Linked DNA regions of Homo sapiens: region 1 is linked to region 2. Evidence: fine-mapped expression QTL. A gene starts in region 2. The other region holds a variant in brackets. All regions are shown on one strand. Distances are between the middles of the regions. Region 1 overlaps MFSD8 (major facilitator superfamily domain containing 8). Region 2 holds the start of MFSD8 (major facilitator superfamily domain containing 8).

Region 1 (4,361 bases), 41 kb after region 2:
GTGAATAGTGCTGTAATAAACATACATGTGCATGTGTCTTCATAGTAGAATGATTTATAATCCTTTGGGTATATACCCAGTAATGGGATTGCTGGGTCAAATGGTATTTCTGGTTCTAGATCCTTGGGGAATTGCCACACTGTCTTCCACAATGGTTGAACTAATTTACACTCCCACCAACAGTGTAAAGGTGTTCCTATTTCTCCACATCCTCTCCAGCATCTGTTGTTCCCCGACTTTTTAATGATTGCCACTCTAACTGGTGTGAGATGGTATCTCATTGTGATTTTGATATGCATTTCTCTAATGACCAGTGATGATGAGCTTTTTTTCATATGTTTGTTGGTTGCATAAATGTCTTCTTTTGAGAAGCATCTGTTCATATCCTTTGCCCACTTTTTGATGGGGTTGTTTTTTTCTTGTAAATTTGTTTAAGTTCCTTGTAGATTCTGGATATTAGACCTTTATCAGATGGATAGATTGCAAAAATTTTCTCCCATTCTGTAGGTTGCTTGTTCACTCTGATGATAGTTTATTTTGCTGTGCAGAAGCTCTTTAGTTTAATTAGATCCCATTTATCAATTTTGGTTTTTGTTGCCATTGCTTTTGGTGTTTTAGACATGAAGTCCTTGCCCATGCCTATGTCCTGAATGGTAATGCCTAGGTTTTCTTCTAGGGTTTTTATGGTTTTAGGTCCTATGTTTAAGTCTTTGATCTTTCTTGAATTAATTTTTGTATAAGGTATAAAGAAGGGGCCCAGTCTCAGTTTTCTGCGTATGGCTAGCCAGTTTTCCCAACACCATTTATTAAATAGGGAATCCTTTCCCTATTGCTTGTTTTTGTCAGGTTTGTCAAAGATCAGATGGTTGTAGATGTGTGGTGTTATTTCTGAGGCCTCTATTCTGTTCCATTGGTCTATATATCTGTTTTGGTACAAGAATCATGCTGTTTTGGTTACTGTAGCCTTGTAGTGTAGTTTGAAGTCAGGTATTGTGATGTCTTCAGCTTTGTTCTTTTTGCTTAGGATTGTCTTGGCTATATGGGCTCTGTTTTGGTTCCGTATGAAATTTAAAGTAGTTTTTTTCTAATTCTGTGAAGAAAGTCAATGGTAGCTTGATGGGGATAGCATTGAATCCATAAGTTACTTTGGACAGTATGGCCATTTTCACAATATTGATTCTTACTGTCCATGAGCATGGAATGTTTTTCCATTTGTTTGTGTCCTCTCTTATGTCCTTTAGCAGTGGTTTGTAGTTCTCCTTGAAGAGGTCCTTCACATCCCTTGTAAGTTGTATTCCTAGATATTTTATTCTCTTTGCAGCAATTGTGAATGGCAGTTCACTCTTGATTTGGCTCTCTGTTTGTCTGTTATTGGTGTATAGGAATGCTTGTGATTTTTGCACATTGATTTTTTATCCTGAGACTTTGCTGAAGTTGCTTGTCGCTTAAGGAGATTTTGGGCACCACTGGTCCCACAGAAATACAAACTACCGTCAGAGAATACCACAGTATTCTCTAATACTATAAACACCTCTATGCAAATAAAATAGAAAATCTAGAAGACACGGATAAATTCCTGGACACATACACCCTCCCAAGACTAAACCAGGAAGAAGTCGAATCCCTGAATTGACCAATAATAAGTTCTGAGATTGAGGCAGTAATTAATAGCCTACCAACCAAAAAAAGCCCAGGACCAGATAGATTCACAGCCGAATTCTACTGGAGGTACAAAGTTTCCATTCCTTCTGAAACTCCATTCCTTCTGTAACTATGCCAAACCGTAGAAGAAGAGGGACTCCTCCCTAACTCATTTTATGAGGCCAGAATCATCCTGATACCAAAACCTGGCAGAGACACAACAAAAAAAATTTAAGGCCAATATCCCTGATGAACATCGATGCGAAAATCCTCAATAAAATACTGGCAAACCCAGGCCAGGTGCGGTGGCTCACGCCTGTAATCTCAGCACTTTGGGAGGCTGAAGTGGGTGGATCACGAGGTCAG[A/GA]GGTCGAGACCATCCTGGCCAACACAGTGAAACCCCATCTCTACTAAAAATACAAAAAAAATTAGCCAGGCGTGGTGGCAGGCACCTGTAGTCCCAGCTACTCAGGAGACTGAGGCAGGAGAATGGCATGAACCCGGGAGGCGGAGTTTGCAGTGAGCCAAGTTCACGCCACTGCATACCAGCCTGGGCGACAGAGCAAGACTCTGTCTCAAATAATAATAATAATAATAATAATAATAATAATAATAATAATAAATAAAAATAAAAAATAAAATACTGGAAAACTGAATTCAGCAGCACATCAAAAAGCTTATCCACCACGATCAAATCTGCTTCATCCCTGAGATGCAAGGCTGGTTCAACATACACAAATCAATAAATGTAATCCATCTCATAAACAGAACCAATGACAAAAACCACATGATTATCTCAATATATGCAGAAAAGGCCTTTGATAAAATTCAACACTCCTTCATGCTAACAACACTCAATAAACTGATATTGATGGAACGTATCTCAAAATAATAAGCGCTATTTATGACAAACCCACAGCCAGTATCATACTGAATGGGCAAAAACTGGAAGCATTCCCTTTGAAAACCGGCACAAGACAAGGATACCCTCTCTCACCTCTCCTGTTCAACATAGTGTTGGAAGTTCTGGCCAGGGCAATCAGGCAAGAGAAAGAAATAAAGGGTATTCAATTAGGAAATGAGAAAGTCAAATTGCCTCTGTTTGCAGATGACATGATTGCTGTATTTCTTAAAAACTAGTACTTGCATCTAGAAGCTTGATGAAATTTGGGTTCAATTTTTTGGCAAGAATACTTTATAGGTGGGAATATGTGCTTATATCAGAAGAAATATAATGTTTTGTTTATCTCTTCTTAACATGTAAGTAGCCACTGATTATTCCATAGATCCATTAATTCATTAATGAATCATTACAAAATTCTGGTATTTTAATTCTATCATTCCTTTATTTATTTGCTAGAATACTTACCATGAAGAGAATCTTTCCCTCACCAACTATTTGGTTAACCTGAGCTATAGTTGTATAGGAAAGGCAGGATAAAGGCTTGATTATTTTCTTTTGTTTCCCTAACATCCTCAAAAACTGACCAAAGAGTACTTTATTTTAATATACTATGAATTCATAGATTATAACACTTTTTTTTTTTTTGGCGACAGGGTCTTGCTCTGTCACCCAGTTTGGAGTGCAGTGGTGCCATCACAGCTCATTGCAGCCTTGACCTCCTGGGCTCAAGTAATCCTCCTGCCTCAACCTCCTAAGTAGCTAGAACTACAGGCACCAAATACCACTCCTGGCTAATTTTTAAAATTTTTTGTAGAGATGGGGTCTTGCTATGTTGCCCAGGCTGGTTTTGAACTTCTGGCATCAAGCAGTCCTCCCGCTTTGGCCTCCCAAAGTACTGGGGTTATAGGTGTGAGCCACTACACCAGGCCACAGATGATAATACTTTTTGTGTGTTTCAATCCATTGCCATTATTATTCTGTTTTGGTACTCACATTGTCACATTTTTGGCCAGCTTCTTCAAATTGGCTGAGTCAAAAAGACTCATGACCTAGTAGTCACTGATAACTTCTGTGCTTTTTGCTGTGAAAGATCTGAGCTCATCTACTTTTTGTGTCCCAGACCTTAAGTCAGCCATTTTTCAGAGGAGTCCTGGTTATTTTTAGTGGAAAATTATATTTAGCATTCTTTTTAATGGATATATCACTAAAAGTACAAGATATTATTTTTAGTTTTTAAAATTATGAAAGTAATGAAGCTATGTTATAATGTTTCATTTTAAAATTACAGAGTTTCTGTTCTTTAACAGGATTGGCGAGCGTGCTATTCTACTGGGAGGACTCATCGTTGTATGGGTTGGCTTCTTTATCTTGTTACCTTGGGGAAATCAATTTCCCAAAATACAGTGGGAAGGTATAGCCATACATAATTCTATAATGTTAACCTCTGTTATTTATCTAAAATCAACAAGTAATGCACTGCAATGGTTTTGTTTTTACAGATTTGCACAATAATTCAATCCCTAATACCACATTTGGGGAAATTATTATTGGTCTTTGGAAGTCTCCAATGGAAGATGACAATGAAAGACCAACTGGTTGCTCGATTGAACAAGCCTGGTGCCTCTACACCCCGGTGATTCATCTGGCCCAGTTCCTTACATCAGCTGTGCTAATAGGATTAGGCTATCCAGTCTGCAATCTTATGTCCTATACTCTATATTCAAAAATTCTAGGACCAAAACCTCAGGTAAGCCAGGTACCCTGACATTGCAATTATAGAAAATATACTTGTAAGCACTCAACATTTTTTGCTGCCA
Region 2 (4,393 bases):
ATCTGCAAGACTGAATCCAAGTACAAAATATCAGGTCTTGATTTAGAAGATATTTCTGAATAGCACGTTTCAAGGTTTTTGGTTTTTTTTTTTTTTTTGAGACAGAATCTCACTCTGTTGCCCAGGCTGGAGTGCAGTGGCGTGATCTCGGCTCACTGCAGCCTCCGCCTCCCGGGTTCAAGGGATTCTCCTGCCTCAGCCTCCCGAGTAGCTGGGACTATAGGCGCCCGCCACCACGCCCGGCTTTTTTTTTTTTTTTTTTTTTTTTTTTTTTTTTTTTGTATTTTTAGTAGAGACGGGGTTTCACCGTGTTAGCCAGGATGGTCTCGATCTCCTGACCTCGTGATCCGCCCGCCTTGGCCTCCCAAGGTGCTGGGATTACAGGCATGAACCATCGCACCCAGACCGCACGTTTCAAGTTTAGGTGTTCACCAGTGAACTGCGCCTGGCTGATACACACAAGGTCACAAATGACACAAAGATCAGAAGTGATGGCATATACCATACATGACTGTGTAACTAGTATAGGACCTAGCATAGGGTAAATGCTCATAAATATTAATTTAAAAAAATTAAGTTTGGTTTCCAACTTTGCCACTTCCACACAGAGTGACTCTGGGTTAACTTGTCTGGATCTTAATTTTCAGTAAACTAGCAATGTGTCTGCTTCGCCTATCTCATAGGATACTTGTGATCAAATGAAATTACATGACAATGTATCTGGCGCTAATAAAACGGTAATTTATGAGACACAGAATGACTACTGACGCCAGCTAGCCTACAAGCCTAATAGTAGAGATAAGATGTTAATACATAACCACCAAGAAATAAACATGGAGATCTAGTGAAAACCCATGACATGTTTTCTAAAAATGTCATCTTCCTTGTGACGAAAGGAGCTGGTCATTGCTAGGCAGGTGCTGTACCTTTTTCAACTCCCACGTTTCAGCAGCAGGCTCTGCTGAGTGACATTTTGCAAGGCTGAGGCCCCCGTAGGCGCAGGCGCCGTTGGGGTGCGCATCCGGGGACCTGCAGGTTACAAGCAGCAGATCCCACCTTCAGTCCTGGCTCTGACAAGCCCTCCAGGTAAGGCGCCTTTGCATTTAGCCGAGCTAGAGAAGAGAGCTGGAAGCCACCTCTACCTTTCACGGGGGGAAGGGACTGCCCGCGCGCTCGCCCCCATTATCTCAGCCCTCCGAAGCGCGCCACGGACTCCAGCCTTGTCTCTCACCCCCAGCCTCACCCCGCGTCCCTGACCCGCGAGTCTCCCGCCCAGCTCCGCGTCCCCGGTCCCTGCCTCCAGGCGCGTACACGGCGCGCTAAGAGGCGCGGGGAGCTCTTAGCGCACCTACTACTTAACCGGACCGGCTACTTACTGGCCGCCAGGTGGAAGCCTGCGATCGAGCTGGCCGGGCCTCCCAGCACCGCCGCTCTCCAGGCTCCCTTTCCAGGACTCAACTTTGGTCCCAGCCCCAATCGCAGCTCCGGTAACCTTTCCAGGAACCGAAATGCTAGATACAGCGGAAGGAGAAACGGAGGGAGGAAGACAAACCCGGAGCAGGGCGGCGCGGCAGTTTGGACACGCCCCGAGCTCTCCTGGGCTCTCAGTCCCCGTCAGGATGGGAGGCGCGTGCCGAGGGAGGAGGCTGAGGACACAGCCTCCTTTCGCCCTGCGCTGCCCGGCCTTCCGCGTGACCCCGCCTATGACCTCGGGGCGTTCCGCCTACGTCTGACCGTCAGGTGCGCACGCGCACTTACAGGCTTGTTTTGCCAGCTTCACGCCACCCGGGATGGGAGAAAGCAGGTGTCGCGAGAGTTGGGCGCAAGACGCCTTGTAGGGAGTGTAACTATGGCCGGCCTGCGGAACGAAAGTGAACAGGAGCCGCTCTTAGGCGACACACCTGGAAGCAGGTGAGCGGATCCTGGTGGAGGGACCCCTCAGTCTCCTGCGCTGTTGGGACTGGTTCCTTTCCGGGCGTCACCCGCACTGGGACAAACCCTCGCTGCCAGAGGGGTTCCAGCGCGGTGGGAGCCGGTGGCTGGGTTGTGTGAGCCGAGGAGATTCGCTCCCAACGTAGGAGAAAGGGCGTCTGGCCGCACCGTGCGGTGATGAGCCCGTGGGTTCGAGTGACGGGGCTGGAGAAACCCAGGCTGCTGCTTTGCCTGTTGCAGCACCCAAGCTGAGAGGTGACAGCGTGCTGGCAGTCCTCACAGCCCTTGCTCGCTCTCCAGGCCTCCTCTGCCTGGGCTCCCACTTTGGCGGCACTTGAGGAGCCCTTCAGCCCACCGCTGCACTGTGGGAGCCCCTTTCTGGGCTGGCCAAGGTGGGAGCCGGCTCCCTCAGCTTGCAGGGAGGTGTGGTGGGAGAGGCGTGAGCGGGAACCGGGGCTGCGCGCCGCGCTTGCGGGCCAGCTGGAGTTCCGAGTGGGCGTGGGCTTGGCGGGCCCCGCACTGGGAGCAGCAGGCCGGCCCTGCCGGCCCCGGGCAATGAGGGGCTTAGCACCCGGGCCAGCGGCTGCGGAGGGTGTGCTGGGTCCCCCAGCAGTGCCAGCCCACTGGCGCTGCGCTCGATTTCTCGCCGGGCCTTAGCTGCCTTCCCGCGGGGCAGGGCTCGGGACCTGCAGCCCGCCATGCCTGAGCCTCCCACCCACTCCGTGGGCTCCTGTGCGGCCCGAGCCTCCCCGATGAGCGCCGCTCCCTACTCCACGGTGCCTAGTCCCATCGACCACCCAAGGGCTGAGGAGTGCGGGTGCACGGCGCGGGACTGGCAGGCAGCTCCACCTGCAGCCCCGGTGCGGGATCCACTGGGCGAAGCCAGCTGGGCTCCTGAGTCTGGTGGAGACGTGGAGAACGTTTATGTCTAGCTCAGGGATTGTAACTACACCAATCGGCACTCTGTATCTAGCTCAAGGTTTGTAAACACACCAATCAGCACCCTGTGTCTAGCTCAGGGTTTGTGAATGCACCAGTCGACACTCTGTATCTAGCTACTCTGGTGGGGCCTTGGAGAACCTTTCTGTCAACACTCTGTATCTAGTTAATCTAGTGGGGACGTGGAGAACCTTTGTGTCTAGCTCAGGGATTGTAAACGCACCAATCAGCGCCCTGTCAAAACAGACTACTCGGCTCTACCAATCAGCAGGATGTGGGTGGGGCCAGATAAGAGAATAAAAGCAGGCTGCCCACCAGTAGTGGCAACCCGCTGAGGTCCCTTTCCACAGTGTGGAAGCTTTGTTTTTTCGCTCTTTGCGATAAATCTTGCTACTGCTCACTCTTTGGGACCATACGGCTTTTATGAGCCGTAACACTCACCGCGAAGGTCTGCAGTTTCACTCCTGAAGCCAGCGAGACCACGGGGAGGAACGAACAACTCCAGACGCGCCGCCTTAAGAGTTGTAACACTCACCACGAAGGTCTGCAGCTTCGCTCTTGAGCCAGCGAGACCACGAACCCACCAGAAGGAAGAAACTCTGAACACATCTGAGCATCAGAAGGAACAAACTCCAGACGTGCCACCTTAAGAGCTGTTAACACTCACCGCGAGGGTCCGCAGCTTCATTCTTGAAGTCAGTGAGACCAAGAACCCACCAATCCCGGACACAAAGCCACCACATTCTGTATCTTCTGCATTCCATATTTGGCCCTTTGTAGCTGATCACTTTCCAGATTTCACAGTTTCAAAATGATGGTTTTAATAGATACTTGAAGGTATCGGTCTTAGTAATGACCTGCTGCCTAATTGCCTGACAACCTCTTGATAGTTTAACAAATCTGTCCAAAATGAGCTCGCCTTTGTCCTATGCCAAATGTACAAAGAAAGACTAATTTTAAGGCATTAAAGGAATAACGTCAGTATTTTGATCCTTATAATTCTGGTTGTTCTGATCCTAGTTTATGGGCAGTGACTCGGGAATGTATACCTAATGTATTTTTACCTTTAGGAAAACGGAATTACTATTTTATTTGAAATATACATAATAATTACCTCAGGTAAATTAATAAATTCAGTTAAACTTCAGCTGTCTATGACCATAATAATTTTTACTCATTTGTTCCCCTTAAGCACCAACCTTTTGTGAGCACTCTAACTCAAAACCCTTTGGCAAATGTATTTCTCTGGTCCTCGATTTACTAAACAGAGTTTATGCAATGCAGTTTTATCTTTACTTGATTTTATCTTGAGATCATTAAAATGAGTTTAGATGCTGATATGAATTTTAGTAGAGTGATGTCCTGAGAGCCTATTGAGACATTTGGGACTGTTTGCTTCTATACCAATTTATTTTACACTGCTATACTTTTTTTTTGAGACGGGGTCTTGCTCTGTGGCCTAGTCTGGAGTGCAGTGGTGAGCCTGGAGTGCAGTTTTATCTTTACTTGATTTTATCTTGAG

What was found. PIP is the estimated chance that this variant, and not a neighbour inherited with it, causes the effect. A credible set is the group of variants that fine-mapping cannot tell apart.
Region 1: its variant is the best candidate, but not a certain one, in a credible set for the expression of MFSD8 in whole blood (TOPMed, PIP 0.63).

Annotation. Positions count from the first base shown.
Region 1 is chr4:127,921,454-127,925,814 of GRCh38, reverse strand. It overlaps MFSD8 (major facilitator superfamily domain containing 8), which reads left to right. Exons shown (of 12, transcript NM_001371596.2): 10 at 3,852-3,955; 11 at 4,044-4,291. Among named protein-coding and RNA genes, the nearest start is that of MFSD8, 42 kb to the left of the region's middle. The variant A/GA (reference allele first, on the strand shown) is at 2,008.
Region 2 is chr4:127,962,590-127,966,982 of GRCh38, reverse strand. It overlaps MFSD8 (major facilitator superfamily domain containing 8), which reads left to right and starts at 1,810. Exons shown (of 12, transcript NM_001371596.2): 1 at 1,810-1,911. The coding sequence starts at 1,850. ABHD18 (abhydrolase domain containing 18) reads right to left here and starts at 1,577. Exons shown (of 13, transcript NM_001358451.3): 1 at 1,377-1,577. RefSeq lists enhancers at 1-197, 198-699, 1,378-1,993, 1,584-2,003 and silencers at 1,094-1,323, 2,444-2,493, 2,504-2,633, 2,744-2,853.